Linked DNA regions of Homo sapiens: all the other regions are linked to region 1. The links come from fine-mapping of genetic effects on gene expression. A gene starts in region 1. Each other region holds a variant in brackets. All regions are shown on one strand. Distances are between the middles of the regions.

Evidence for each region.
Region 2: its variant is fine-mapped to the expression of CTXN2-AS1 in whole blood (TOPMed, PIP above 0.99).
Region 3: its variant is fine-mapped to the expression of CTXN2-AS1 in whole blood (INTERVAL, PIP above 0.99).
Region 4: its variant is fine-mapped to the expression of CTXN2-AS1 in whole blood (INTERVAL, PIP above 0.99).

What each region holds. Positions count from the first base shown.
Region 1 is chr15:48,187,922-48,196,090 of GRCh38, forward strand. It overlaps CTXN2-AS1 (CTXN2 antisense RNA 1), which reads right to left and starts at 3,788. Exons shown (of 3, transcript NR_184082.1): 1 at 3,664-3,788; 2 at 3,012-3,140; 3 at 159-1,588. CTXN2 (cortexin 2) reads left to right here and starts at 3,744. Exons shown (of 2, transcript NM_001145668.2): 1 at 3,744-3,932. RefSeq lists an enhancer at 3,748-4,251.
Region 2 is chr15:48,308,818-48,316,986 of GRCh38, forward strand. It overlaps DUT-AS1 (DUT antisense RNA 1), which reads right to left. Exons shown (of 3, transcript NR_186809.1): 2 at 6,078-6,146; 3 at 1,651-3,924. LOC124903486 (a long non-coding RNA gene) reads right to left here. Exons shown (of 2, transcript XR_007064625.1): 2 at 7,907-8,169. Among named protein-coding and RNA genes, the nearest start is that of DUT, 19 kb to the right of the region's middle. The variant A/T (reference allele first, on the strand shown) is at 4,194.
Region 3 is chr15:48,262,449-48,270,617 of GRCh38, forward strand. SLC12A1 (solute carrier family 12 member 1) reads left to right here. Exons shown (of 27, transcript NM_000338.3): 18 at 5,113-5,253; 19 at 7,210-7,316. Among named protein-coding and RNA genes, the nearest start is that of SLC12A1, 60 kb to the left of the region's middle. RefSeq lists a silencer at 3,690-3,890. The variant C/CT (reference allele first, on the strand shown) is at 3,997.
Region 4 is chr15:48,351,712-48,359,880 of GRCh38, forward strand. No RefSeq gene overlaps it. Among named protein-coding and RNA genes, the nearest start is that of DUT-AS1, 24 kb to the left of the region's middle. The variant C/CT (reference allele first, on the strand shown) is at 4,178.

The sequences.
Region 1 (8,169 bases):
TGAAAAATTTCTTCGTCATCTTGACATTTTAATATTTCCTCATTATAGTTTAGATTTTTATCTTCATAGCTAATTAGATGATACATTTTCTGTATTTTAGTATCCTATTTAGAATAAATTTATAAAACAACCATATACACTCACCCAATAATCAAAAAGTAGAGAAATTTACTTTATTTATTTATTTACTCCACTTCTGATTTTATGAGGACATTTACATGAGGTCACACATTAAAACAAATAATTAAAAGAAAATAATATTATCATTACCTAAGAAACCAAAATTGCAGTAGTTAAGGTGATTAAAAAAAAAGAAAAGATATAAAAGGCTTAAGGTCTTATGTAGTTATTCATTTTCAGCTGTTAATTTGACTCTGGCATCCCTAGTAGCTAAAATAAATGCTAACTTTAATTAGTTACATGATTTTCATTGTGTGTAAGAACAGAACATACCACTTTACCCTGGGTTGATTTAAGTGAGGTATGAAAGTTCAATTCATTAAACTGGTATTGAAAGAAATGCTTTTGGGGATATATCTATGAAATCTAAATTTCTTGGGCATCTTTATATAAGAAATAGTAAGTTATATGTTGACCAACACTTTAGTAACAGCTCTGTAGTAGATATAGAGCAGGTTGTGTAAGCTGGCTACTGTTTCACATAGAATTACTGTATATAAGCTGAGAGCATAATGTCAAAGCATAGTAAAGGCAATTCTGCTTGAGGAACTTCTAAACAATGTCACCAACATATTTACCTTTCTAATAACTTGGATTGTTCTGAAAATAAATCATAGATGCTCCAGAAGTATAGATTATCCACATGTGCTTTAGAAAGGCATTCATATATTTCATGCCTTTCAGCAATTTTTTTTGTAAAAGTTGGGCAGTAGATATTGGCAAGGACCTGAAGTACAAGTATTCTGTGTTTTATCTTTTTGCAGTTCTTCATCCCTTCTTTGGCAATGGCTAATAAAACATGAATAGCATATTAATCTGTGTTTGTATAGAACTTTGTAGAACTTACCATATTATTTTGCCACGTATCTCCTCGAGGGCAGAGACCAAATCTCATTTATCTTTGTATCTCAGCATCTAGCAAAGAAAGTGGAACCTAATGGATTTTTAATCCATTATGCTTTCCTGAATAAGCCATTTTGCAGGCTTTTGAGAGCATCATTACCTTTCATATAGCTTGAAAAGGGTCAGGGTCATGCACCAACTAATACCAAGGAACCTAATTTATAATCAATGCTTTCCTTTGGCATCAATTCAGAAGCATTAATGGGAAACGCTAGCAACCTTCAAAATGTAAGCATGTGTGTATGATGTCAATGACATAACAAATCAACATTCACACAAATGATCTATGAAACAAGAAGCCTATTCTACCTTTTAAACTAAGTGAGAATTAGAACTGTAATATCCAGATTTTAAAAATCAGCTTTATGGGCATTTACCATGGAGCCATATTTCAAGTCATAAAGTGACAAGTCAAAGTCTCCAACCGTGATAATAAATTATTGGAGTGGTGCTTATACATCCGCAGCAGAATCATGTAACTTAGTTCTGCTCCCTTGAGCTCGGCCTGCAAAGAGAATGAATGGTTATAGATCATAGTATGGAAATACAGACTCAACTATACCACTGGTCCAGACAATGTCAAAATCAAAATCAAAGGAATCAAATTCATAAAAAATTGTTCATACTGTACAGACAAAATGTTTACATGATTAGTCTCTGAACTAATTTTGAATAAATTATTTTTGTAACAGTTTGGAAACATACATAGAATAATAGATGGAATAAAATGATCTCCTTTCCCACAATCTATGACTGACTGCATTGCCAGAATTCAATATCTCTAGCATCTTGCTACTTTATTTTTATTTATTTATTTATTTTGAGACAATGTCTCGCTCTGTCACCCAGGCTGGAGTGCAGTGGCACAATCTCAGCTCACTGCAATGTCCGCCTCCTGAGTTCAAGTGATTCTCCTGCCTCAGTCTCCTGAGTAGCTGGGATTACAGGCACCCACCACCACACCCAGCTAATTTTTGTATTTTTAGTAGAGACAGGGTTTCGCCATGTTGGTCAGGCTGGTCTCAAACTCCTCACCTCAGGTGATCCTCCTACCTCGGCCTCCCAAAGTGCTGGGATTACAGGCATAAGCCACCACTCCTGGCTGCATCTTGCTACTTTAATTGGTCCCAAAACTAGTAATCTCTGGCATCACCTAGGAAATTGTCAGAAAAGCACAATCTGAGACCCAACCCCACACCTACTGAATCAGAGTCTGCATTTTAGCAAGATCGTTGAAGATTCATATGCATGTTATACTTCAAGAAGCACTGTTCCAGCCCAGAGTGCTAATAAAGAATGTGGCCCTTGGCAAGTTTAAAAAGGGTCAATAAAACCATGGCCATGGAAATGTCCCTAGAATAAGATATGTCTTTCAGTCTTTCATAGAGGGCAGTTAGTTCACCTACATTTTAGGACATCTTAATAGTTTAAAATCAAAAAACAACTTTTAAAAAATGTGGTCTTATATGAACTCTCAGTTATACATTGCCCATTTTTTTGTAAGACCATTACATTTCCTAAATCAGTAAATACTCTAAATAATCATGAAGTTTGTCTTCACTTTGTTATTGAATCTAGTTGCAGTTACATTACGTTTTCAAAGTATTTTCTTTAGATGAGTGTCCCAATTCTGTATCTACATTTCCCCCAACGACTCACAGTCCAGTAGTTATAAGGTGAATAATTAAGATTGTAGGGAATCTAAAAGTGCTTGCAACTTGTAGGTTCTGGATAGAGTCGCAAAACATAAATAGAATTGGGAACCCTGTAACTGAGTTTGTTGAAACGGCCAGACCCCTAAAATAAGGATAAAGAGCAAGGTTTCTGTTGTTGTTTTTTTGTTTTCCTTTGCTTTGCTTTGCTTTACCTTGCTTTCAACGTCGGTTAGGTTTAGAATCTACATATTCAACACTGTTTAGAAAACGTACCTGGCAGCTATCTAGAGCTTTATCAGAGCGTTTCCTGGCTGCTATTTTGTTGTCTTCTAGCTTGTGTTGGGGAGACAGGTCTCACCACGCACCATTTCAGCACTACGGACAGCGCCTAGGCGCCTTCTCCTAGAAACGGAAGGGGATTCAGTTGTGTTTGTGTGGAAGAGAGAAGGGAAAGAGTAGAGGAAAAGAACTCCAAACGACACATTCAGTCTCCAGTTAAATCAATACACCTTTCACTCCTGAATTTTCCTTACCGGATAAGAAGAAACGTGTAAGAATTTAGTGCCTACTGTTCTACTGAAAACGGCTGTCACCAAAGCACAGCAAAATGCCCGCAGCACAGCCAGGAATGCAGCAAAGAGAGCAAAACAAGGATTTCAGCAGTAAATCAATTAAACCCTCACTGCCTTAGTAAACAAAGATAATGATGAAATCTAATTGCTAACCTTCAGGGTGTGTCGTGAGAAAAAAAAGGAGTGTCTATTTTTTTCTTCCTCTCTTCCTCTTTCTTTTAGCAGAACTGAAGAATAGAGCCTGTTGCTGCTGGAGCTGATTCCCTTCCCCTCCTCATCTCCCACCTCCTTTCAGTCTCACATACACACACAGATGCTGCCACAGACACACGCGAGCGCAAATATTTACACACTGCCACACCGAAGAAATCCATGCACGTTTTCCTGCAAACGCGCGCGCGCACACGTACTTCGGCGGGCGCCCACGTCCTCTGTCTCACCAACAGACACAGACATTTACACTTCTAGGCCAGGAAAGCGCTAACCAGGGCCCTGTGACTCTACGCAGGTTCCAGAACACGCCTTCTACATTTGTTACTGAACCGATCAGCGAACACAGACAAACGTGCCAACACTTAAGTCTACTGGCTGGACTTCATCTCCATGGCAACAAGCATGGAAGGTGAGACATCGCTGTCTGCGAAGTAACTTTCTCCCCCTTCCCTCCGCATTAACTGACAGCGTTCCAAATGCAGGTCCAGATGAGAAGCATGTCCTCATTCTCTTGTATTTCTGAAGCAAAAGAGCGGGGGGTGGGGCGGTGGGTGGAGGAGCCAGTAGGTCTGATAAGTTCAAATTCTAAAGGAGAAACAGCACCCCTAATGCTAGCGCCACTGCTGATGCGGCTGCCAGGCGGGGGAAAAGTGTTGTGTACGTGCAGATTGCTGATGCTTCTCCCATAATGTTTTGTAGGAAGTTTCCATGCTTCTTCGGTTTAGTGCGTAGAAAGAGACCTGGAAACAAACAACGCAGAATGATGATGATGGTCTAGGTTTCTTTAATGAGATATCTGGAGAATTTTCAGACCAGGTTTCCCAGTGCGTTGGAAGGATTGAGTGTCAGAGTCCTTGAGCCATCCAAAGATTCTCTTAAGAGAGAAATTCTCTTAAGGTTGAAATCTGAGGGTTTAGGGGTGGATTCTGGCAGATCCTAAGGTCTGGGATCTCTGGAAAGCCCTGAAATTTATGCATTTCACCATGATGAAGACATCTAGGTTTGTAATTTAAGGTTTTCCTTTTATTCCAACACATTCGATTCTTAATGATTAACTACCTCTGTGCAGATGTGGTTTCAATAATGCTTCTTTTCTCTCTTTTACTGGGATATAATCTTTATATTTTGTGTGGAGTGTGTATATGTATGGAATGGTTCATTATTTTTTAAGCTTGGGTTTTCTTATATGTCTTATTTCATGAAATTATGAATGTCATCATTAGCAGTAGAGATTATTATATCTAATGACCAGTGCTAAAATACTTTCTACCTAGAACATCATATTCCACTCTAATAGTTATTATTTCAGGTTTATTGTTTGGAATACCATTACTAGAGAAATAAACAAGAGGAAAAACCTGTTGATTAAAATAAAACACAGGAGGTTCTTTCTTTAATGGGTACACACTTTTTAACATTAGTTTCTGTAATTGTGCATTGTTGCATGATTAAATGATTTTATCTGAAAGGTATATTTTTATATCTCTAGTAAGGTTATTTCACAGAAGACATAAACATCACTAACAATATTCATGAATATGAAAGGCTGCATATCAGGTATAAAAATACTATCATCTTTGCTTAACTGCTTACGGAGATATGATTTGTAAGTACTGATCATAGGAAGACTTTGTTTTTTACTTACTAGTTGCCAATTACAAAGCAACTTCATGAGATTTGGGCTATTTGATATCTACAGGAACACCCCTGGCCCAATCTTATGACTCATCAGTACTTAGAAATCTTGGTGCCTGACAATTGCCATGAAGGAAATGTACTTTCAACCAAGTTACTCATTGCCAAAGTACCTAACCATTTATTCCAGTGAATATGGCTCAAGACAATATTTTATCATTTGCATCAGTAGTATTAAAAGACACTTAAATATTTTAATCATTATATATATTGATCCTGATATTTAAACTGTGCATTGTTTATTTTACCCAATTTTGTGGTATAATATATTTCAAATAACTTTTACCACTACCCAATTTTACATTCTACTTATTTTTGAAAGTTCATTTTTTCTTAACTATTTTTATATGGATTTTTTAATATATGGTTTTGTAACTTAATCTAAATTTTCTCAGATTTCTTTTTTTTTCTATTTCCCAATAAACAGGATATTAAAATGATGCTTCTCTGGAGCTAGGCATTACAGTGTCTGTTGTGAATAGCTCTTCCAGCTTTTAGAGAAAGTGAAAATGCATATTTTATCTATAACTGTTGAGTATTTTGAACACCTTAGTAATTGTGAATGAATCAGTTTTATAACTGGGGACTTTTGTTTTTAATAATATTTTGTTATTAACAATATTTTCATATCATATTATGCTCTATATCAGTAGAAAAGCAGGACTTGGCACACTTAACAGTATATCCTCAAAAACTTTGGATTTGTTGTTGAAATGAGACAAGTTCTTCATTTCACAGAGCAAGTAAAATGGAAAGTTTGGCCAATTGTTTGAAAAATTTAGGCCTGAAATACTGATATTTCAACTGCTATATATATGGTTTAAATTACTAAAACCATCTATTTGCTGAACACATTGTTAGGCAATTGCTTAACTTTTTACTTCTATTTGCTTGTGTAGGCACAGCCTGCAGCAATGGACAAATTTTTAATCAGCCTTTGAATATTACTTTTTCAGTTGCTCTCCTTGACCTGTATTTTGTTTTCATCTTTAGTATAAAGTATATTTTATGATAAATATAAAAGCCTGTTTTCTCTTTTAAGATATTAATAAAACATTTGTTCTTTCTCAACCCATTTTTTTTTTGTTAAAAATGGAAATTTTACAGTTCTTTGAATCCAGGTAAATTTATGGAGCTCTTCCTTTAAAAACTGAATATGCAGTCATGTCTTCATTATTGAAAGTGATTCATCATATGATTTAACCTTCTGTACCGACTAAGTAAAACTTATTTTCTGTCAAGTTTATTTACCACCTGACTCCATTTTCTCATTACCCCTCACTCCTAAATCCAATTCAATTTAGTGTCCCTCCTAGACTCTCAACTAAATTTTTATAATGATGAAATAATTCTGAATGCCAACCATAAGACCCTGTTTTCCAGTGCTTAGTTTCCATCACCGCTGCAGAATTTGACACTGTTTGCTAATGCCTCATTCTAGAAGCCCTAGCCTCCTTTATTATAGGTGAACTTTCTGCTACAGATTTACTCATGATTCATCTTATATAACTCCACTAGGAGATCCTCCTTGTAGGAGAGGCATTCCTTGGAGTTCCTTGCTAGGCTTCTTCCATCTTTAATCTTTTCTGGTAACAGAAAATAGACTTTAATGGAATTACAGTAAAATTGCTCTCTGGATCAATCTAGAACAAGTCCATCTGGCTTCCTACAAGATAATATTTCAAATATTTGAGTCTACCTATTGTCCTTCTTGGTCTTCCCTTTCCTAGGCAAAACTCAACAATTCTTTTCTTCTCTTTAAGTTTTGATCTGCAAATATTTCTATGTACTGGGCTCTCTCCATCCTGTATAAAGTCTTCTACACAAACGTTATTTGACAACAATACCTTAAAATATTCTCCCCATCAAAAATTTTATGCTAGACAAAATGATCTGGATAAATTTATTGAAAGCTGACAATTGAGTGCCTACTAAGTGCCACACATGAGTACCACAAATTCACCAAGTCCAGAAATAAACTTGTCATTTACTTTTTAAGTCTATGCTTTGCTCTTATTTTCTTTGTTTTGATTAATAAAAACACTATATTTACACTTGTCCGAGCTTAATAGTGTAGAGTCATCTTTGATGCCTCTCTCTCCTTGGGCCCACTACTTTCCAAATCCTATCCCTCCTACTTTTCTAAATATCTTTCCAACCTCTACCCTCTTTCATACATCTACTCCCTAGTGGAGACCCTCATTGCTTCTCACCTGAACCATTTCTTTCCCGTGATGCTCTCTCCCTCAAAATTATGTCTATTTCAGTCTCATCATCAAGCCACTCAGCCTTTAAGCAAATAGATTTCAAACTCTTAGCCTGACAGTCAACATATTTCACAATTTGGCTCCAACCTACCTTTCCAACGCTTTGTTTCCCATACTCCCCCTTGCCTGTACCAAATTGCTCACTGTGCTCTGAAAAAATCCAGTATTTTTCTGCCTTCATATTTATTGTCATGCTTTTTTCTTCTTCACAGATTTGAATCATTCTGTCTCTCAAGACTCAGTTCAAATACAATCTCTTGCAAGAAAAACTTTCCTGATCCCTCAATGGGTGATATCTTGATTTCATCTAAACTTGTTTATCCTTTTTGGATCTTCTTTTTTTTCACCAAGATGTTGAAGATAGTATCAACACTATGTGGGTGTTGTGGGAATAAAATAAAATATGTAAAGCAGTATTTGATACACAGTAGATTTTAAATACAAGTTGGCTTCCTCTTCCTTTTTTATTGCTTTTGTAGAAGCCTATGTTGTTGTTTCTTTCCTTGTGTGTACATGGCTCTTCTCCCTTACTAGTTGGAATCCCTTTAAGTAGAGGAGTGCATGTCTACTAGAGCATACTAGCAACCCAATAAATATGTTTCAATGAAAGTATAGTGAATATATGCAGTGTTACTTTATATGTGGCCTGACACATTATAATAATGTTATTACTTTCTATCATTT
Region 2 (8,169 bases), 120 kb after region 1:
ATGGTAAATTTTTAATTACAATACACATATCTATTTGTAGTAAAATATAAACCACTCAAATTAACTCAAAAGGAAATAGAATACCTGATAAAATCTAATACTTCAGGATAAAACACGAAGATTGTCAAAGATCTAGCTCAAAAAAGTTTCAACCCAAAGGATTTTTTCTAGGCAACTTCTTTTAAACTTTCAAAGAAAATATAATTACCATTATATTTAAGCTATTGCTGAACAGAACAAGATAAAACATTGTCTTTCCCTTTCTCAGTTATTTTGCAAAACTAGCATAAACTTGATACCAAAATATGACAGACCACAAAAATAGGATACAAGTCAATTTCTTGTATGAATAAACATAGGAAAATCCAAAATAGAATACTAGCAACTCAATTTTACCAATGTATTCAAACAATATTCCACTATAATCAGGAATATGGTATTCTAGGAATACAGATATATCTTATTGCTAGGAAATCAGTTAATTTAATTAATCCAATTTAGTGAGCATTAGTTACCATTTACTTATTCATATTTTTTGAATATTTATTTGTAAATGCATAGTGTACCTCTAGAAGAATGCATAAGAAACCAATTAGGGTTGACTTTGGAGAAGAAAACTGAATGAAGGACAAGTAAGAGATTTCATTTTTACTATATACAATAATAACTACTCAAAAACTAACATTTAAATAATTAAATCCATAAACAAGCTACTTGTCTGCCAGACTGTATTTAATGATTAACTCATGTTTGATCTGACATATATTGTGAAGGTCATATATAATAAATTTCTAACACTCAAAAATATATTATACCATCATTATTGTGTTGTGCTTATTCGTAAAATAAGTGAGCAACTAAAACGTCACTGTAAAAAGAAAAAGTTGACCCCATCACATACCTACTGATAAGCTTAGGTTTTTAGTTTTGTTTTTTTTTTAAACATGAGATCTTTTAAAATATATATATGCCTCTTTCTTGGGTGGAGAAAGTGATAGAGAAATATTGCATCAGATTTACCACTATGGCCCTGCAGACATTATTTAGGTCAGTAGGTTCATATTGCATATTTTACTTTCTGGAACTCAGGAATAGACAAGTATAATCTTGTGCTGTGTTTTGTTTTGTTTTGTTTTGTCTGGAGACAGAGTCTCTGTTGCCCAGGCTGGAGTGCAGTGTCGCAGTCATAGCTCACTGAAGCCTCTGAACTCCTGGGCTCAAGTGATCCTCCCACCTCAGCCTCCCAGGTGGCTGGGACTACAGGTGCAAGCCACCATGCTGAACTATTTTTTCGTTTTATTATTCCTTTTTCTATAGATGGGGTCTCACTCTGTTGCCCAGGCAGGTCACAAATTCCTGCATTTAAGCAGTCCTCCCACCTCAACCTCCCCAAATGCTGGGATTACAGGCAGCAGCCACCATACTCAGCCAAGTATAATCTTAATAGGTTCTGAGTTTTATTTTCTGGGCCAAATAAAACTCAGAATTGATATTATCCATAGTAGGATAGGGTAATTATTATAATGTGACTGAATTGTGTGAATCTATGCATTATGAGTATAGTATGTTCTTTCATCCTTTTAAACACAAAACCCAAGTGGGATGTGTATTAATTTTCTACTGCTGCATAATAAATTATCACAAACTTCATGGTTTAAAACAGTACCCATTTATTATTTCACACTTTCCATGGGTCGAGAGTACAGGCATATCTTTTATTTTATTTTATTTTATTTTATTTATTTTTTGTAGAGACAAGGTCTTGCTATGTTGCCCAGGCTGGTCTAGAACTCCTGGCCTCAAACAATCTTCCTGCCTCGGCCTCCCACAGTGCTGGGATTACAGGTGTGAGCCCTATGGCTGGCCAGACATATCTTAACTGGGTTCTTTGCTCAGGATCTTACTATACTGGAATCAAGATTTTAGCTAGGGCTACAGTCTCCTCTGAGGTTCAGGATCCTCTTCCAAGCTCAAGTGATTGGCAGCTGTATTAATTTTCTTGCTGCTATAGAACTCATGGCAGCTTGCGTCTTTAAGGCCACCAGGGAGAAATCTTTAAACTCTAGACCCTCTGTTAAAGGGCTTACCTGATTAAGTCAGGCCCACTTTAGTCAATCTCCCTTATGATTGAACTTAAAGGCCGGGCATGGTGGCTCACACCTGTAATACTAGCACTTTGGGAGGCAGAGGCTGGTGGATCACCTGAGGTCAGGAGTTAGAGATCAGCCTGGCCAACATGGTAAAATCCCATCTCTACTAAAAATATAAAAATTAGCTGGGTGTGGTGGCCCGTGCCTGTAATCCCAGCTACTTGGGAGGCTGAGGCAAGAGAATTGCTTGAACCCGGGAGGCAGAAGTTGCAGTGAGCCAAGATCGCTCTACTGCACTCCAGCCTGCCCAACGGGAGCAAGATTCCCTCTCAAAAAAAAATAATAATAAAATAAAATAATTTTTAAAAAGATCAAACTTAAAGTCAACAGATTAAGGATTTTAATTATATCTGCAAAAATTTTCATCTTTTCCTTATAAAGTAAGCTAATAATTAGAGGGGCACCCCACCATACTCACAGGTCCCTCCCAGACTCAAGAGGAGGAGATTACACAGGCCATCTTAGAATCCTGCCTTCAATATTGCTATCTCACATTTCTAGAGATCATATATATCAGCTATGAAGAGCCAAGCTGGGAGTTAGATAAGTTAAAAATGGTCCATGAAGTGTCCCCCAAAAAGTTCCACTCTCTGTGCATGCACAATAGATCATATTCATTTGGAGGGATATCTAGAACCATAAAAATAAATTAAACCTGAAAAAGACCTCAGAGATCCTCAAGTACTAAAATGATGTTTCCATACAGAACATTTGCACACAATTCTAGTTACATTGTTTTTCAGTCAACAAAATGTTAAATGAGCAGTAACTAGCCATAAGTGACACCAGGGATAATGCAGCAAAACATGAAAAACTTTTAACAAAGGAAATATAGAGCACAAAATTGCAGCAATCTGAGGTCAAAAACGTGAAAGAGATTCTACACACCCCAGTAGAGCTTGAGGACATCATTACTTTGTAAGAGGACAGACTAATGGCAGAAAAGCTCAATTTTGTTCCATGTATCCTGGTTAAGAAAGCAAGGATACCTGCACTGCAATTCACCCTCAGAAAAATTCTCGTCCACATGGCTGGCATCAAAAGATGGCTAAGCTTCAGTTATCTGGAAAATTAATTTACATAGACAGACTCTTTCTGCAGTTAAGCAGAGTATATGGAGCTCCAGTGTAAGATTTAAACAGTATATTTTCAGGTTAAGTAATTTAAGATGAGGAATGCAGAAAGGAGAACTTCTCAGAGGTTGAGGCCAAGAACCAGGTCATGAATGTCATTGCTTCAGAGAAGGTGACAAGCAATGACAACTGGGATAAGAAGACTAATTTCCTCCTCAGCCTGGGAGACATATTGCAGCAGAGGGTAGTTTGGGACAAAACTCAGCAGTTGACTTTGAGAGAAAGGCATAAGTAACTGCTAAACTGTGAGACTGCTGCAGACCCTGGGGGCTCAAGCCCAACCCTCTGTTGTCATGCAAGCCCCTGTTCTCACACAGCATGGCTTTCCCAGACTTTCAAATCTGGATCATCTGCTCTTTTCGATGCCCAAGAGATGAAGAAAAAGAGACTGACTTCTCTGTTATTATGTACTTGCACTTTCTGATGTTCCTATTGCACTTCTGCCCAACAAAGAGGTGGTAAAATTATTCTCAGGGAAAGTGAGAAGTTCAGAGGAGTAAGAAATAACAGGTATTTAAAGATGTTAGGCCAAGCACGGTGGCTCACATCTGTAATCCCAGCACTTTGGGAAGCCGAGGCAGGAGGATAGCTTGAGCTCAGGAGTTCGAGAACAGTCTGGGCAACACAGTGAAACCCTGTCTCTACAAAAAAAAAATAATAATAATAATAACAAACATTAGTCAGGTGTGGTGGTGTATGCCTGTAGTCCCAGCTACTTGGGAGGCTGAGGTGGGAAGGATCACTTGAGCCCTAGAGGCGGAAGTTGCGGTAAGTTGTAATTGCACCACTGCACTCCAGCCTGGGTGACAGAGCAAGACTCTGTCTCAAAAAACAAAAAACAAAAACAAATACAAAAAAAAATATTAAACAACTCCAGCTGCTAACACAACACGCACATTGGAAACAGATC[A/T]CCATACTGTGATTTCCTAATGCTCAAAGATACATTTACAAAATGAATTCTACTAAAAAAAAGTATTATTTGTGCACTTTTGACTTAATGTGTCCAAAAGTGAGCTCTTACTCTTCCTTCCCAAAGGTGCTCTTTAACACTCTTCCTTCATCTCCATGCATGACAATGCTATCCTTGCCATGAATCTTCGAGTCATCTTTGACTCTCACACGCACATCTGATTTATCAGCAAATCCTATTGGCTTCAGAATATATCCAGAATCTACTCACTTGTCACCATCTCCACTTCTGCCTCTCTGACCCATGTTGCCACTGGACCATTTCTCACCTGGATCACTGCAGGAGCCTTCTCAAGGGTCTTTCCACATCAGGCCTAGCTCCTCCTCTGCCTCATTTCAACATCTTCTCAAAGGTCTTTCCACATCAGGCCTTACTCCTCCTCTTCCTCATAGCAACCCAAGCAATCCTGCCAAGTAAACTAGAGATTGTCATTCCTGTTACCAAAATCTTCTAATGGCTTCCCATTTCAGTCCATGGAAAAGCCACTGTCCTTACAAGAGCTTACAAGGCCCTACCCCTGCACCCCATCCACCTATTTCTGCGACTTCAACACCTACAACTGTGTACGCCTTCCTCTGTCACTGTTCAGACCACACTGGCCTTCTTACAGGTGAGTTTGCACCCTGGGACCTTAGTGCCTGCTGTGTCCTCTGCCTGGAATGCCCTTCCCCAAGATATCACTTCCTTCAAGTTAGGTAAAACAACCCCCAGCCCCCAGCCCCACAATCAGCAAATAGCATGTTCTCACTGAGGCCTTCCCTGGCTTCCCTCTCTGAAATCAGAAGTCTAAATCCCATACCTCCCTCCCTGCTTTACTTTTCTCCTTAACTCTCGGCACTACTCATTTGAATCACATCTTCTATCTGTTGTCAGACTTATTTTGTCTGTTCTGTTCCCTGCCATATCCTCAAAGTCTAGACCAGTGCCTGGCACATGGAACACATTCAACAGATATTTGTTGGAACGATGAATTAATACAGGGCACTGAGGGGACATGGCAAGTATGAAACTCCTTTGGGGTCTGGTCTCTGACTCACTATGAAGCCGCATTCTGCCCTGCTCAGGGCCCTTCCACACCAGCTATGCCCTGACGCACCACACACTCTGTACTCTCCAGAGCTCTGAATATGCTTATCCTGCTGCCTGGGATTTCTGACTCTCTCTCTCTCTCTTTTTTTTTTTTTTTTTTTTTTTGAGATGGAGTCTCGCTCTGTCACCCAGGCTGGAGTGCAGTGGCATGTCTCAACCCACTGCAACTTTTGCCTCTCAGGTTCAAGCGATTCTCATGCATCAGCCTTTCAAGTAGCTGGGATTACAGGCATGCGCCACTATGCCCGGCTAATTTTTGTATTTTTAGCAGAGATGGAGTTTCACCATGTTGGCCAGGCTGTCTTGAACTAATCTCAAATTATCTGCCCACCTTGGCCTCCCAAAGTGCTAAGATTACAGGCATGAGCCACCGCACCCAGCCTCACTCTTTTTTTTATGTTTTTGAGACGGAGTCTCACGCTGTTGCCCAGGCTGGAGTGCAATGGTGCGATCTCGGCTCGCTGCAACCTCGCACTCCCGTTCAAACGATTCTCCTGCCTCAACCTCCAGCGTAGCTGGGATTACAGGCACCGCCACCACGCCAAGCTAATTTTTTAATTTTTAGTAGAGACAGGGTTTCACCATGTTGGTCAGGATGGTCTCAATCTCCTGACCTTGTGATCTGCCCACCTCAGCCTCCCAAACTGCTGGGATTATAGGCGTGAGCCACCTCGCCCAGCCTCTTTTTTCAATCACTGTTATTTTTATCCTTATTTAGTTCACTACTATACTCACTTTCTCTTGAGTTGATTGGCCATCTGGTGTCAGTTCTTTTGTCAATTGATTCAACAAAAATGTGTCAGGCTGTAAAGACACAAAGATACACTGTTCTGAGCTCTTAAGATATTGGCATCCACATTCCCTGCCCTCAAAAAGTTAAAGGTTTAGACAGACAAGAAAACAAGTTACACATAATAATTACAAATTGTGAAAAATACTGTGAAGGAAATAAAGAGAAAGTGTTGAGACAGGATAACTCTGTTGACCTTGATGCCCTTTGTGGGCGGGAACTGGAGAGGCTCCTTTCACTCAGCCCACTGTCGGCCACTCCTCCCAAAAGAGAGCCTGCGAGCAAGCGAGTGCAGCAACCGGAGACAACACTGGAACTGGCCCATTACTCCTCTCTGGCAGGAGCACGCTCTGTGCAGGCCCTATAGCAGCATCCAAGCCCCTGCCCTCTCCGTACCCGGGCATCCAGGAAGAATCAGGCCACAAGAACGAATAGAAGGGTGGTTGGTGTATGCGGAGGATTTTACTGGGTGATATAAGTGGCTCTCAGCAGGATAAGGAATTGGAAAGGGGATGGGTGTGGGAAGAAGGTGATCTTTCCCTGAAGCCACACTGTCTGAAGTTAGCCACATCTATCCATAGTCTTGATGCTCAGCAGCTTGTACCCCCACCGCTCCGCTGCTTGTGTTGCTCTGCCAGTTGAAGTCTTTTTATGTCAACAGGATAGGGGCGTGGCAGGCCAAAAAAGTAACATTTGGGTGGAAAAACAGGGTCAGCTATTTTCACTTAGGGCTGTGGTTCCAGGCTTAAGGGTGGGGTGGGGAGGGGGTTTAGCCAGGAGCCCAGCTGTTCTGTATCAGTGTGACAGAGAATAATGGAAATAGTAATACTTTATTAGGGTACTCAGTGAGGATGTCTATGAAAAACACATAAGGATAAGAAGGTGCTGACAGTGTTGAACTTTACCGGAGCCCTGTGCTCCTGGAACACAGCAATCGTTAAGAAGTCTCCCCAGCTTTCTGTGTTCTAGAAATGGCTAACTGAAATCAACCACCATTCCCTATATGACTTAGACAAGACACTGCCAACTCTTTCTCATGATTCCTACAAGACTGTAGATGATTCCTTTGTTTACCTGTGACAAGGTCAAACCCAGACTTTTCCCCTTTAAACTGAGCCTGCACATAAGGTCAGACAGACACCTTCTAACTTTATTCTTTGTCTCATGGATGATTAGCTGAGATAAGTTTTGTCCTCATGAAACTAACTAGACACAGAAATAAACAATCCCAACTTTAAATTTACTCCACCTATAACTTGTCTACTCTTCCCTATAAAAATCTAAGACAAGGCCAGGTGTGGGGACTCACACCTGTAATCCCAGCACTTTGGGAGGCCAAGGTGGGCAGATCACTTGAGGTCAGGGGTTTGAGACCATCCTGGCCAACATGGTGAAACCCAGCCTCTACTAAAAATACAAAAAAATAAGCCGGGCATGGTGGCGGGTGCCTATAATCCTAGCTACTCAGGGGGCTGAGGCAGGAGAATTGCTTGAACCCAGGAGGCAGAGGTTACAGTGAGCTGAGATCACACCACTGCACTCCAGCCTGAGTGGCAGAGTAAGACTCTGTCTCAAAAAAACAAACAAACAGAAAAAATCTAAAACAAAACTATCCTGCTAGATACACTGTAGTAGGCTGAACACGGCCCCTGAAGATATCCAGGTCCTAATCCCTGAAATCTGTGAATTTTACCTTACATGGAAAAAGGGCTTTTGCAAATGTGATTAAGGATCTTGAGATGAGGCAATCATCCTGGATTATCTGGCTAAGTCCTAAATAAAAGCACAAGTATTTTTTTAAATTTAAATTTTATTTTACTTTATTTTATTTTAAATTCTGGGATACATGTACAGGATGTGCAGGTTTGTTACATAAGTAAACACATGCCATGATGGTTTACTGCACCTATCCACCCATCACCTAGGTATTAAGCACCACATGCATAAGCACAAGTATCTTTGTAAGGGGGAAGCTGAGGGACATTTGACTATAAGCAGAAAATCATGTGATGGAAGCAGGGTCAGACAGAAGATGCT
Region 3 (8,169 bases), 75 kb after region 1:
ATTTGAAATTAAGAGAGCTGTACTCTTTGCTGGGCCCCAAGCACCCGCTGTGGCCTTCCAACTATCCAGCTAACTCTTAACACTCTCCGCAGGCCTCTTCCTCTCTCTTGCTTTTTTACTATTCAGCTTAAAGATTTCAAGTGAGCAACTCTTCATCAGGGTAAATTTGGGGACCCATTCTAAAGAATCCAGCTCAGTAATTTAAAAAATACTGTCTATTCTTCTCTTTTGAACTAACAAAATAAATAAATGACATATTTCTATCCCAATAGGCTTTATATTAAATATGTGGGTCATTTGTTCTTTTGTACCTATCATTTTTATCACCATAGGAAGACAGAGGGAGGAAAACTCCACCTTGTAGCATCCCCCTCATATTTCTAAGCATAGCCAAGTTCAACAGGTTCAGCAAAAGGTAAGTTATTAGTTAAAAGTTGCAAGTTGCATCCTCCACCAGTTTTACCCTATGTATCCTGACACATATAAGCACTGCCTTTGTCAATGAGTTTCCTCACTTATGTCATTCATAGTAGATGCAGAGATATCCAAACCAATCATCCCAGATAACTTAATTTGAATTTATGTACCTGTAATTCTCTGGGCACACTATGTTCAGTTCTAGAAGTCTTATGGGATCAGTTGACACTTACCTTTCCCAGGTGCAAAGGCATCATACTGCAGCAGTTCCTTATTCATATACTTCTCAATTTTACATTTAAAAATAGGAATTTTTTTATTAAAATGAATAAACAGATATACATTTAAGGATCAAAAGTTAATTGAATTGAAAGTCGATTCCATTGACCTGGGATTTGGAACACAAATCAGATAAAGTCATTATTGTCCAAAAACACGCCACTTACCTCTTTTCTCAATTTTGCTTGTCTTACCTTGCAAAAGGCTTTCAGGTTTACAGTGGCATCTTTTATCAAGTACATTATGTTGTGCTGGTGGCTGAAGAAATAAGAATTTTTTAAAAAGATTGATTCTGTTTTTAAATTTTGAAACACTAAAAAAATTAATTAGGTTGAATCATATAAAATTTGCATTTTTATAGATCAAAATCGTTTGATACTGGCAGTTTCATATGGCTCACTATATAAAATTAAATGAGACCTTTAATTTATATTCTACTTTTCCTAATTAATGACTGTTAACATTTTGGGCCAGATGCAGTGAGTCCCTGCCTAAAAAAAGAAAAAAAATTGGTTATAGAAGCTTCTACTCACTTTATTTTTATTTATTTATTTATTTATTTATTTGAGACAGAGTCTCCCTCTGTCACTTAAGCTGGAGTACAATGGCGCAATCATAGCTCACTGCAGCCTTGAGCTCCCAGGCTCAAGCAATCCTCCCACCTCAGCCTTCCCAGTGTCCGGGACTACAGGCATGTGCCACCACACCCAGCTAATTTTTGTATTTTTTGTAGAGACAGGGTTTTGCCATGTTGCCCAGGCTGGTCTCCAACTCCTGGGCTCAAGCGATTTGCCCTCCTCGACCTCCCAAAGTCCATTATAGGTATGAGCCATTGCACTCGGCCCTCCACTCACTTTTTAAATGAAATAAGCCATTACAGATCAAGTTAAAGCCCCTTTTAATACCACTCCAGACCCCTGGTTCTCTCTGTTCCCAGAGGCAATGTTATCTGAATTTTATGGGTATTCTTCTCATCATTTCACACACGGATACCAAAATGTAAATCTATTTTCATTCATGTTTTTCTTATTCATTAATGTTACTTTAAACCTGATTGTCCTCTCCTGTAAAGGAGGAAAGGGATGGACTTTGACCGGCTCTTAGACTTTTACCCTGTTTCTTTTTCTCGTTTTTTTTCTAAAAAATTATAAAATATCTTAAGAAAACCTAAGGCTCTCTTTGAATTCTCTGTTTGAGGAGTTCTCAATAAATCTCACAGAAGACACCTACCTCTTAACTCTTGAACTGCATAAGGAAGGCAGTTCAAGCCCTTATAACCCAGGGAAAACTAAATTCTCATTTCTTCTTCTATCTTTCAGCCTCCTCTTAATCTCAAATTTCACATCCACCAAGGAAAAAATGTATTCTTTCTAGATGCATCTTATTTTTTTTATCAGTGAGCCTCTGTTATGATGTTAATAAAATAGTGACATGACCAAATATTGAAAGAATGAAATGACCTATGAATGGGCACTAGCATGTATGGTAAGATAATATGGACCAAATCAGAAAGGGAAAAATTTTCTTTCCCACAATTCCAACCAAAGCATCCATGAAAACAAAGACAGACTAATAAGACTTTCAATGTTAAAAAAAAGAAAAAAGTTGGAAGGAATACTGCACTTGGTGAATTCCTCTGTTTGATCCGAATGGGGTTGGAACCCCTTTACAAACTCTTTTTCATGATAGTCACGTATTTAAAGTAACATCACATCAACTTCTCCACACTACATAATTAGAAATGCTTTACCCCTTTCTCAATTAATATCAAAGTTATAATATATACAAGATTTTTAAAGCTTCTTTGTTTGAATCCTGAATTAATTTATATACTCATATTTTGGATCCCAACTGAAGCTAATCTCTATAATATTATAATGGGGTAGTAAAATTCATTTTTGTAACTATGGCATATTTGAATGTTGAATAATTGTATTCCAGTATGTCTTTTCTCTTTGCTAGTTTGCTTTATTCTTACCACATTTGTATTGCAGCCTTCCTTGCTTCACATTAATAAGTGTGCTACAATGATGTTATAATCGTTTTTAGCAAAGAGAGATTCTGCATGAAACATTTTTATGACTTCTCAATATGGCAAGTTTAGGCATTAAAGTAAATCTCTCTGTCACAATTAATGTTTAATCTGGATTTTTATAATACTAACAGACATACATTAGACTGTGTTTATTTAAATAAATGCCATTCTCCCCAGGGGTTCACAGTCACTGTGGTACAACTCACTACACTGATGGTTCAAAGTATTTCCTGTTTGTTATTCTTCTATCTAATGGCTGCTGTAACCACTGAACTTCCTTGAATAAAATATTCTTTCTTTTTTTTGCAGTTGATGAAGTTTAGAATGCTCAAAGAAGGACTAGTGATTCAAAATGCATTGACAATCTGGAAACCTGAGCTAAATTGATCCATAATGGCATATCTTTCCTTAGACTAGGTCATCTAGTTTAGTAACTACCCTGCCAATCTCTCTATCTTTTCTATCTTCATGGAAGTTTCTTGTTTTTAAATTTTCCTTTAATGGGAAGTCAACCAAACTGTTTTGAAAAGTTGGCAGGTTCTAGGAAATATGCTGGAAAAAATAAGAATATAAAGAGTCTGATCCAATTTAAATAGAATATTAAAATGGAAGGGACCCCAGAGATTGAATGTTGTGTAATAGAAATATATTATGTGCCATATATGTAATTTAAAATTTTCTAGTAGCCAATTAAAAAGGAAAAAGAAATAGGTAAAGTTATTTTTAATAATATTGTATTAACCCAGTGTGTCCAAAATATTGTAATTTCAATATAGAATCAATACAGAAACATTAATGAGATATTTTACATTCTTTTTTGTAGTAGGACTTTGAAATCCAGTGTGTAGTTTATGCATCCAGCATATCTCAATGTGAACCAGCCACATTTCAAATGTTCAATAGCAGCATGGACATACAGGCTATCATATTGGGCAGTGATGACCTAGGCAATTGCCTGAGTTTTATCAATGTAGAACATACCTCAAGAGAGGACAAATGGCAGACCCAGGGTGTCAGCCAGTCAGTGCCAGATCTCAACCCAACATTCTGACTCACAGTTCAGTGTTCCTGCAAGCACAGTGGTAAAATCACATCCGGGGCTTTGATGACATTGCACTAGGTACTTTATTATTACTACTTAAAGCAACCTTGCACGAGCAAGAGTTTATCCTCATTTTAAGGATAAGATACAAAAGCTCAGAGATAAGGAATTACCTCCTCAGGCTTAGATCTGAGACCTGTTTTGTCTGACCGCAAAGCCTGGG[C/CT]TTTTTTTTTTTTTTCATGCATCCCAATGTCCTTTCTCTCCAATCTAAGACCCTTTAAGACCGTGACTCCAAGTGTGGTCTGTCTAAGGAGCAGCAGCATCTGTTGCCTCCAGGAGCTTGTTAGAAATGCAAAATATTGAGCCCTGCTTCAATACCCACAAGGCTGCATTTTATCAAGATCCCAAGTGATTCATGTAAAATCTAAGCCATCTCAACAAAATACAAATCTCTCTATAAATTAAAAGAATTTCCTGGGAAAATGGATTTGTACCCTGTCAGACATATGGCAGATAATCAGAAATAACTTTTGGATTGAATTACATCATGAGAAGAAAAGAACTAGCTTGGACATTTAAGGAAGGAGAAATAAAAATAGAATTTTTCATTAAAAATGTGTTTCCAGAACTAAATCTTGAAATTATAAAATGCCTTATCAACCATCACAACACCTGTCTTCTTCCCTCTTAATCTCTTCCACTCTTCTTAGGTCATAGGTACGTAAACCTTTGTTCCCACCAAATTCATTGAATGACAAGGAAATGTTAATGTATTTGAATGGAAGTGTGGCAACATTACACAGGGAAAAGTGGTATAAGGGTATTTTTGCCACACGAAAAAGCAACGCATCAGCCAAATAGAATTGACAAGATGTGCAGTTCATGGCAGGATTTGCAGGTCACCATGTTCTACCTCCCATGGAGCTCTGTCCATTTCTTGAAATTAGGCTCCAGCTGAGATTTCTTTCGTGTTCCTGAAAGTGGCTCTCGCTAATGAGTCAAAGGTTGATTGTGTATTTATCCTAAGCCTCTTCAGTCACATTTTCAGTATTTTCCTTGTGTCATGTTGCCCTCAACTCTTCCTTTCATTCAGTGTCAGGCAGTAAATTAAGCAGATGTTAATCAGTCTAGATGTTTTGGGTAGAAAATGAATGGTGTGAATACCGCAGGTCATCTCCAAAAGGCTGAATCTGTGGAACCCTGTTCAGTGAGGTGTTTTTCCCTCTTTCCCATTTCTTAACTCAATGGGGCATTGCTGGCTATTTTTGTCCTTTAGAAAACAACAGCAATGTGATATATAATAGCAGGGTTCTAACCAATATTTCATTGTGTCACACAGGGACCGCGCAAACTGTGTGTTAAGGAGATGAACAGTGGCATGGCGAAAAAACAGGCCTGGCTTATAAAGAACAAAATCAAGGCTTTTTATGCTGCAGTGGCGGCAGACTGTTTCAGGGATGGTGTCCGAAGTCTTCTTCAGGTAAGGCTGCATTGAGGGAATGAGCACAGAGGCAAAAGACAATTAGTGCTCCATGTTAATAAGGCTCCCAAAGTGAACAGCTGTAGTTAGGCAGCCAAGCATCAGAGATCAGTGCAGATGGTTAAGGGATTATTTTGAATTCCTGGGTATAGGCAAAGCTAGAACAAAAGCAGAGAAGTTCTATTACAATGAACTATGAATGATACACTGGAAACGGAAAATGAGGTTGCCTTTGGCCACCAGCATACATTCTGCCCCCGTACTTATTGAAATGCAAATTTGTTCTGGTGGTTGACGACATTCAGGATCCTATTGAAACTTCAAACTATTTTTATATCTCATACTGCATATAGCAATGCTCAAGTCAGGCATTCTTTTCCTTTTTTCTTTTGCAAATGGTGTTAGGGCAGCTGCTAGACCAACTAAATTAATGCATGGTGATCTGGGCATAAAATCTCCCTATCCTCCTGAATTATTTCCAGAATGTTGAATAAAATGTAATAATCTCTACAGCTCAACCTTAAATCCCATAGTTCTCACATCTTTTTTCCCTTATTTTTTCCTTTTTCCTTCATCTCTGCTATAGTAAGTACATAAAATCTTTTCCTAGTTCTGATCGTCATAATTTAGAGTGACAAAGAATCCTTAAAACAATCCAAGAGACCCTCAGAAATTGTAGAGCTTGGCTTTCCGAGCATTTTGGGTTTAATATGGTTGAAAACCCTAATTATATATATATGAAATGGTGCATTTGGCTTTCAGAGTTACTGTATTTCAGAGTGTCAGAAGTCAGAACTGCATCCAGGTAACTCAGATGCGCATGCAGGCAGGAAAGAAAAAATATTGGTTAAGCTTAATTGGTAATATTTTGGAGCTTAAGAGTATTTGATGCAATCCTGTGCCTAATTTCCCTTAAGAACACTTGCGAAGTAGATGCACGTACAGAGAAACAATTTCTGCAAAACCTATTACCCACAATGAGCCTCTTTTCATCTGTTATTAATTTGCTAAACCATGGAAATAGGTGTTATTGCAAGATGCTGATTTTTCTTTCAGTACCAAGTTAGTTTTCAATAGCTCTTTGGTTAAATATGTTGTCACTATTAGTCATTTATTATAAAATTATCATACAAGATTTTAAAATAATATTTTCAACTAGGAATGGGAATATGGACATAAAATAAGAGCAGGGAAAGAAAAGACACAAGTATGAAAAAGAATTATTAGAATCCAGAAGAAATGGTAGAAAATTTGAACATGCATACATTCATATGAATTTCTTCACATAAAAAGTGAAGTACAGGAGAACCATGGCAAAAGGACAAGACATAGCACTATGCAATTCATAGGTGCTTAGTAATATTGTTGAATTAAATTTGATTAACTGGAAGCTGTATGCTGTCATCTAATGAAGGGAAACAACACTTCTGATATGGAAGATGGCTATTAATGATACTGTCACATAAAAGAATTAGGTTTTGGAAACATAATTCAGTCACTCTTCAATAAATAACATAAGTAGAGATTTTAGTGATCCTTGTACATAAGAATTTTCCAAACATGGATTTTATTGCTAATGACATTATGGATATAACAGGTGGAATTGAGCTTTGAACCACTAAGTTACAACATGCATACCAACAGTTAAGCTGACCCTCACTTGATTTTAAATTATTGAACCATTTTAATGACTGTGTCAGAAGAAATGCAAATGACTGCTAATTTAGAAAAGCTACATTTCTGTCATCTAAAATCCATTTATAGCTGGGATGATTTAGAATTAATCTTTCCATTTTATGCTTGGGTACGGGCATGAAGGACATGCACTAAAATGTAATCTAATCTTCAGGATCTTCAGAACATTACTTCAGTGCTCCTTTAGACATTATTTTTCATTTGTGATGGTAGTTTCCCAGTACGGTAAGGATTGCCCACATTTTTATGTCCTCTGTTTAGGCCTCAGGCTTAGGAAGAATGAAACCAAACACTCTGGTGATTGGATATAAGAAAAACTGGAGGAAAGCTCCCTTGACAGAGATTGAGAACTACGTGGGAATCATACAGTAAGTGATGGCTTTCAAGACGTGTTCTTGTTTATAAAGCACTAAGCAGGGCAGTACATAACTTGTACTGCACATAACACTGTTGTGTCAGATTAAATTGCCTGAGAAGAGTACATTCCCCTGGTACTCTGACTTCTTTTCCAAGGTGAAAAAAACACCACCAATAATAGAGTTTGAGGGAATCAGAGTGTCAGAGGAGGCAGGGTGAGAGAAACGCCCGTGTCAGAGAAAAAAGTAAATGTTTAGAGTTACAACCTTAAAATCTATTTACAAGATTAAAAGGAAAGCACAGCTAAGCAAGGAGAAATTTTTCTTTCAAAACACCTGGAATCTTGGGTTGGCTGGTGTCTCCAATTCAGTCATTGTCTTCTTCTGAGCCTCTGATAATTCGTTCACTATCCCAGAGCCCTATATCTCCCTCTGCTAAGAGGCTCCCATATGCCAGGTGCTTCTGCTACCAGGTGGAGCATCATTGGCTTGTGCACAGAATGTGAGTTTCCGGTGGTACATAACCTCTAATAGCTAAATATTTGAGGAGACTTAGGATGTAAGTAATAATGATAGATCTTAAAGGACTAGCAGGCTGCAGGCTAATGTCTTTAACATGTATTATCTCATTTAATTCTCATAAGAAGATTTCGAAGGAAGTACTAATATTTTTTCCCATTCTACAAGTGGAGAAAAAGACATTAAAAATTAAGTAGCATGCTGAAAAATCTCAGCATTTAGTGACAGAGCTGGAATTCCAACCCAGGACTATCCAAATTCAAAGTTGAAACTCATGACTATAACGCTATGCTTTCTCTATATATTATATACTCCAAAACAAGTATTATATATTTTATACTATATA
Region 4 (8,169 bases), 160 kb after region 1:
TCGTGCCACTGGCACTCCAGCCTGGGCGACAGTGAGACTCCGTCTCAAAAAAAAAAAAGATTACCAAATTACCAAATTATGTCTAGGTTTGATCATATGTTTTCAAAATGGGTTTACCTATGAGTAAAGAAACTTCTAGGAGAATATATATCAAAATGATGATATCTTTGGCTGTTGGAATTGTAGGTAATTTTTTCCTTTTTGCATGATCTATATTTTAACTTTTTTTTTTTTTTTTTTTTTTTCTGATACGGAGTCTTGCTCTGTCGCCCAGAGCTGGAGTGCAATGGTGCGATCTCGGCTCACTGCAACCTCTGCCTCTTGGGTTCAAGCAATTCTCCTGCCTCAGCCTCCTGAGTAGCTGGGATTATAGGTGTGCGCCACTATGCCCAGCTAATTTTTTTTGTATTTTTAGAGAGACAGGGTTTCATCATGTTGGCCAGGCTGGTCTTGAACTCCTGACCTCATGGTCTGCCCATCTCAGCCTCCCAAAGTGCTGGGATTAATTACAGGCATGAGCCACTGCGCCCAGCCTATTTTAACATTTTTTAAACATGAAAACTATATTACTTGACTAAGAAACGATTAAAATTTTATTATAAAATACTTTTGTTAAATTTGTATTGCATTTACTGCTTTAACAAATACTTTTAATATTGAAAATATATGGGAACATTATAAATTACAAATTTTGAAGTAAAAAATGAGCCTGATCTAATGAAAAAAATAGTAACTTTGGGAGTTTTACATCTGAGTTTAAGCTCTGTTCTTTTACTAACTAAAATATCTTCAATAAATAAAGTAAACTTCCAGATCCTCAATTTTTATCATAAAATAAAGAGAGTCGGTCGGATAATCTCGGTAGTCTTCTCCCCCTCTCCCGTTTTACGAATCTTGAATAAGACCAGACTGTACAGCCGTGGCAAATTACTGCCACCTGGTGGCAGTTATCTAAGGTGAGCTAGCTGTATTTAAGGGATAGAATCACCATCATTCATGCATACTTGTGTTTGCCTAGCATCTATGTGCCAGGCAAGTGTCAGCATTATTGTTTATCCAATTTAGTGTTTTTCTAGATGATGTAGGTGAAACAACCAAGACATAAGCTGTGACATGCTAGCTGTGTGACCTTAAGGACATCATCTAACCTCTTGAGTCTGCCTTTCCATCTGAAAAATAAAGTTAATAATATCCACCTTACATTATTAGAAGACCTAGAGATGATAGGTGTAAAGTATCTTACACAGTCCATGGCAAAAGTATTTAGTCAATAAATGGTAGTAGTTATCCTTAGGAAGGTTACCATCTGTAGCAGGGGAAATAAGACAAATATAGGCATCTGTGCAAATATAGGTAGTGTGACATATATGATGTGCATGAAAATACAAAGAGGGCATGAGGTATATTCAAGAAATGGCAAAACCAAAGTTCCAATGGACTGGAGTATAAAGGACATGTAGGGAATTGTTGGTAACTCTTCTGGAATGGTAGGTTGCAGATCTGCTCTAGAGGGTCCTAAACGTCAAGGAGGCAATGGCCAGTCACAGAAGAGTTTTGGACTAAGAATAATATCACTAGAGCTGAGCTTCAGCAATACTGATATTAATCAAATGTCTGACAATGAGGTTAAGAAGCCAGGTAATGAGCACAGAGGATGGCAAAAGAAAGGTGGGTGGAGACCGAGCGTGGTGGCTCACATCTGTAATCAAAGCACCTCGGGAGACTGAGGTGGGCAAATTGCTTGTGCCCAGGAGTTCAAGACCAGCCTAAGCAACATAGCGAAACCTAGTCTCTAAAAAAATTAGCCAGGCATGATGGCTCACACTTGTAGTCCCAGCTACTCGGGAGGCTGAGAGATGGGAAGATCACTTAAGCCCAGGAAGTTGAGGATGCAGACCTTTGGTAATTACCCCAGGCAACGAGGCTGTTTTACAATGCGGCATAATCATGCCACTGCACTCCAGCCTGGGCAACAAAGTGAGACTCTGTCTCAAAAAAAAAAAAAAAAAAGAAAAAAAAGAAAAGAAAAGAAAGAAAGATGGAAGCCAGGTGCAGTGACTCACGCCTGTAATCCCAGCACTTTGGGAGGCAGAGGCGGGTGGATCACAAGGTCAGGAGATCGAGACCATCCTGGCCAACATGGCGAAACCCCGTCTCTACTAAAAATATAAAAATTAGCTGAGCGTGGTGGCGCATGCCTGTAATCCCAGCTACTTAGGAGGCTGAGGCAGGAGAATCGCTTGAACCAGGGAGTCGGAGCTTGCAGTGAGCCAAGATCACGCCACTGCACTCCACCCTGGCGACAGAGTGAGACTCCGTCTCAAAAAAGAAAGAAAGAAAGAAAGATGGGTAGGAATGACACTGAAAAACTGCAGAACTGCAATTGTGAGTGAATCTTTACAAATGAACTACCTGAGACAAAGGGAAACTAAGAAGTATTTGGTGTCAGGACACCAACCAGCCATAGCAGTTGTAGGACTAAACTCCAGGGTTCCTGGCCTGGGTCTAAAACCCTTTCCCCATCCATGAAAGGCATTAGCCCAAATTTCTACTGAGGTCTGAACCAAATATGAGTTTGGCCTTCGAATCACACATTGTTCAATACATAGGATAGTAACTCTTTGTGACTATTTTCTAATGTGCCATGGGCTAGAGAGGAAATACGACAAAATACTTTTCTACAAGGTCATTCACTTTGAGTATCAGAAAGAACATTCTACTTAGAATAAAATAAAATCCCAAGTGTGCCCATTTTAAAATCCCTGTGGGATTTATAATGGCTTAACTTTTAGTTGAGAAGAAATTTTTTTTTTTTCTGGCATCTTAGAGAAGCAGACAGAGAAGCAGAGGTGATGCTTTGACAAATAGTAGCATAGATCAGGATAAATGACAGGAAGCTCTCATAAAATATACTTCGATGAGAGCAAAGGCAAATAATGATATAATGCCCTGCAGCTACATGTTTGAAATGGAAATGTTTGGAATGAGGATGTTAGGGAAAATAATATTAGAAAAAGACTAATGCTGTATGAGGTTCCTGTCAGATGAGGAGTGTAGGATAATTGTGTAATAGTGAAATAATATGGTTTAGAAAAAAGAAGGTGCTGTTGACTGAGACTGTTTGATTATCATAGAAGAGATGAAACACTTTTTCATAGTCAGAAAAATCAATATACAGCCCAAGAAGAGAAGTCGTTTGATGATAAGGCAATAAAAACTTCAAAGGGCAAGTTAAAAATGTTTCCTAATTCATTTCAGCCTAAACTGATCCCTGCGCCCGTCTCACACTGTCCGCCAGCTCTTTTGCTGAAGTATGTTACCCTTTCTCCTTGGAATCATTACCCGGTCTCCTTGGAATGGAAACTGTGTCAGACTCCAGGGGTGAGTGGGAGGGAAAATGGTGCTCGCAGAAAGAGAGGAAGTGTTTTTTCAATTTAGAGCTAGAAGTAAGTGCTGACATTGTCTCATGTGTGTTTGGGGACAATGGCACAGGCCAGCGGTAACACATCCACTTTTCTGTGTCCCTTGCTCAGATGTGTTTGGCATGAGGCTGCAAAAGCCACGGCTACTTTATCGCACCCCAAATCTCTGAATCTCTGTTCTCCCTCCTGGGAATGTGAAATATGGACAACATGCAGTTTCTACCTTGTATTGTTAACATAATTATCCAGATGAATTCTCTTATTATTTCCCCACACATATTTTGAAACAAAAAATCCTTTCCCTTACGAAACTTCACTTCCTTTCTTCAGACGCACACCTTCTGTGGGGTTTGAACATTAACCTCAGCTGACTTCAGAGCTGCACTAAGCAAAGCCTGTGTTTTCTAGGCCAAAGTAGACAAAGTGAAGTGAAAGGAGCTGTTGCCAGTTGATGCTGACGAAGGTAGAAGAGAGGCTGGGTACTCACGCTAGGTTCCACCCCCTGCACCGCCCTCTCCCCCAGTACAGCTCATCTGGGAGTTCAGATTCCTCAGCCTTCTAGGTCACCTCTGATGAGCAGGGGCTGTGAGAACTGCTTAGCCTTTTGGCTACTGTAGTGTGGTTGGGAGAGAAAATACGTATTAATATTATTACTTAAAGATAGTTTTATTTGTGTCTATATTGAACATCTCTTGTTTAGAAGGCAAAATAATCATCTGCCTGCCACATTTTACTTCGTAGGCATAGAGTATCAC[C/CT]TTTTTTTTTTTTTTTTGAGACAGAGTCTTGCTCTGTTGCCCAGGCTGGAGTGCAGTGGCACGATTTCGGTTCACTGCAACTTCTGCTTCCTGGGTTCAAGAGATTCTCCTGCCTCAGCCTCCTGAGTAGTTGAGATTACAGGTGTCCGCCACCATGCCTGGCTAATTTTTGTATTTTTAGTAGAGGCGGGGTTTCACCATGTTGGCGAGACTGGTCTCAAATCCCTGGCCTCAAGTGATCCACCCGCCTCGGCCTCCCAAGTGCTGGGATTACAGGCGTGAGCCACCGCGCCCAGCCAGAGTATCATCTTTTAAACTGCTTTGTTCTAATATAATTATCTGTGTCCAAATTTTAGAATTGATTTTCATAACTTAAATTAGAATACAAATAATAAAAGGAAGAGAGCTAACATTTTTTAAGTGCTATATACACCAGGTGCTATTCTAGTTGTGTTCCTTTTACCTGAATGAGGTATTGTAAACCTAGGGGCAGAATTTACTCTTAGGGTGAAAACTGGTCTCTTTATTTTTAGGGAGTCAGCAAGCCATTCTGATGGGCTACTCAAATGTTAGAGTAGGATCTCAGAGCTCAAGGGCTTGTTTGGGCAGGCTGAGAAGGAGAGGCAGAGAGATGTGAGGGACTCAGGAGTTGGTGGCAGGGGTGGTTAGCAGGGGGCAGGAACGCCAAAATATGGTAGGAGGCTAATCAGAGAAAGGACCAGTGAGAAATTTCCTGCATCAAGGAGTGCCAAGACACTTCTTCTAAATTTATATTATGGAAATTTCTAGCATATACAAAAGCAGAATGAGAAGTATAATGAACCCCGTGTAATCATCACTCAGCTTTAACAATGATCCTCTCATAGCTGATTTTGTTTCTTCCGTATCCCTACCTACTTGCCCACTCCCAACCCCCAGTGAATTATTTTGAAACAAATCCCAGACATTGTATCACTTCACAGATTACATTTTAATCTGTTTTCCGAGCTATCTGTACGGTAGCTCCCCTCTTATTACCCAAACTTCAGTCAAATCCACTCCTTTAGTGTCAGTGGGACTTTAGAGGGGGACTAAAAGCAAAAGAGTTTGCATCTGGGCCAAAATGGGTGAAGAAAAAGTAGTGAGAAGCCTGATGCGCAGCCGAGATTAAGAATAAGCAGAGCTCCTGAGAATCCTTGAAAAGATTGGAGGTGAAGGGATGCTAGTTCTTCCATAGAAGTCAGATGGGAGTTTTATATAGTAGTGTGTGTGTCTGTGTGTGTGTGTGTGTGTGTGTGTGTGTGTGTGCTGTTATTAAAATGAAGAGTGACTCTGGAAGACTGGAAGACTTGGGGACAGCCAGACAGCTGGCCTTTGGGTTACAGTTGCATTTTCCAAGTTTCCTTTCCTTGCAAGGAAAGAAAATACTAAATTTAAACACCATCTTTCAATTTCTCAGTCAATAATTTCCTTTTCTGTCTCTTTCACAAATGCAGTTTCAAGACATCAATGCAAGGCATTTATTTTCTACGGCGCCTTTCAGAAACATGAAATCACTGAAGGAGCGTTGTTAAGCAATTCCAATCCCAATTAGGTTTGCAGCTGATGTCTACGTAGCCTTGTTTAAGTTACTATTCTTTAACAACTTGTGGTGTAACTAGCAAAAATTGTAAAAAGTGGACCTAGATTCTTGCAAAATTACCCTGTAGCGTTCTCAAGGTGGGGGAAAGAAAAATATGGACAACAATTGAACTAAATTTAATTTTATCAAGTTAATAATGCCTTTAAGATTATAGATAGGCCAGGCGCAGTGGCTCACGCCTATAATCCCAGCACTTTGGGAGGCCGAGGCAGGTGGATCACCTGAGATCAAGAGTTCAAGACCAGCCTGGCTAACATGGTGAAACCACATCTCTGCTAAAAATACAAAAAAATTAGCCAGGCATGGTGGCGGGCGCCTGTAATTCCAGCTACTTGGGAAGCTGAGGCAGGAGAATCACTTGAACCAGGGAGGCGGAGGTTGCAATAAGCTGAGATTGCGCTATTGCACTCCAGCCTGGGCAACAAGAGCAAAACTCCGTCTCAAAAAGCAAAACAAAACAAAAGATGATAGATAAACAGAGGAATTTGGGATTTGAAATGTCATCTTCTCTTAAGATGCATCTAGACAGTTGATAATTGCCCAAATAAGTTTAATATGGGATAGACTGCGAACTTTTTTTGCATGCAGATAGCATGAGTTATAGCTATTTCCTTATTTATATTCTAATAGAAAAAGAATTTTTCTTTGAGAAAAGAAAATGGCAACTTTACTATCTTTATCAGATGCGTTTCTGTCTTAAAAAAAGACCGAGGCTGTATGTGGGAAACAAAAATTATAACCAACATTAAGACAATATGTTGTTGAAAATACTGCTATCTAGAGGCCTTAGGAAATAGTATCTAGCAACCACTAGATGTCACTTGATGTTTGCTTTTTTGTAAAAGGTAGTTTTTTTGTTTTGTTTTTGTTTTTTCATAGTTTATCTGCAATTATAAGTCTACAATTCTCAATGGGTCCAAGCTGGCAGAAAACAAAATGCTGCAATATTTGAGTGAAAGCAGGCAAAAGTCATTAGATGAGAACAATGATTTTAACTTTAAATAAGATTTGGGTGGTTGCAGGGTTTGTATAATCTCTCCTGGCATTTGTAAGGACCAGAGAAGCCAGCAGCTTTGCCCTCCTGCTGTGTTTAAACAAAAATGGAAAATTGTAATGAACAGCTAGATTTTTCCTATCTTTCATTTTTTTCTTCCTCCTCCTTCCCCATTTTTAGGAGAATGTGACTTTTAAAATGATTGCCCTTTAATGAGGTTACTTGCAGCATTTTAAGATCAATCCTTCTTTGTTCAAATTTCTACCCACAAATCAAAACTGTTTTAATCTTCATTATCTCAGTAAAGCGCATGTGACAAAAGTAAATGGAGAAGACGTCTAGAAATGTTGTGAGGGTTCTCTGGGGTTATCCACTTCCTGTATTTGCTAAAACTCTAATAATCAGTTCCAGTAGAGACCATGTATCCTGGGGTTTTGTTTTGTGTAACAGCTATTTGTTTATTTTTTTTAACTGTCATTGTATTTTGGCTTCATGATGGTTAAATGAGTCTCCGTATTAAGTAAACCTCTCTGACCCTGCCTATTTCCTGTCTTGTCAAACCTTTCCTTGTAAGAATAACAGTGTTCTTTTATTTGGTAGTGTGCAGCATGATGTTTTTGGCATGGCCAACATTTTTGACTTGCAAAAATTTGTGACCTCAAGTGTGAGAGAAGTGAATGCTTTTTTCGGTACCTCATGGGGTCTCAATCTTAAAAAGTATCTTACGAAAGAATTATCAGCATGTTTATTTCCCAAACATCACAAATAAACAAATAGAAATAGCTTTTTTTAATAAGCTACTAAAAATATTAAACCAATGAATACTTGGTGAACATTTTGCTGCTACTAAACTTACATAATTTCTCAAACTGGCCTAGCTATATGAAGACACAGAGCTTTTATCATGTTCTGTCTAGTAATTCATATTTTTGAAAACATATTTTCAAACCAAAACACATTGTATGTGAGTGGAGTATGGCTATTCCAAGTCACAGAATGGAAGAAATATCTTTGTTGCCTCATCCTTATATACCTAGGTCTATTTAGTTCTGAAATGGATTCTATAAGATAAGAACCATCAAAATCAAAAGTCTCAATCAAATGCACCTCCTTTTTTTAAGGTAGCTAGCCATTTGCTAGCATTTTTCTCTTATCTTTTGGTTTATTTTTCAATAATGTGGACATTATGAGAATAAAATCATGGTAAACATCTCTTGCATTTAAAGATTGACAACTGCTAAATATTAATTTTGAAATATTGATAACTAATTAGAATCTGAAGAAAATAGATTGTGTTGATTTGAAGGTGTCATGAATAAATTCTTATAATCACATAGCAGTAGTTCTGAAAGTCTTGGCTAACAAAAATCTAAATAT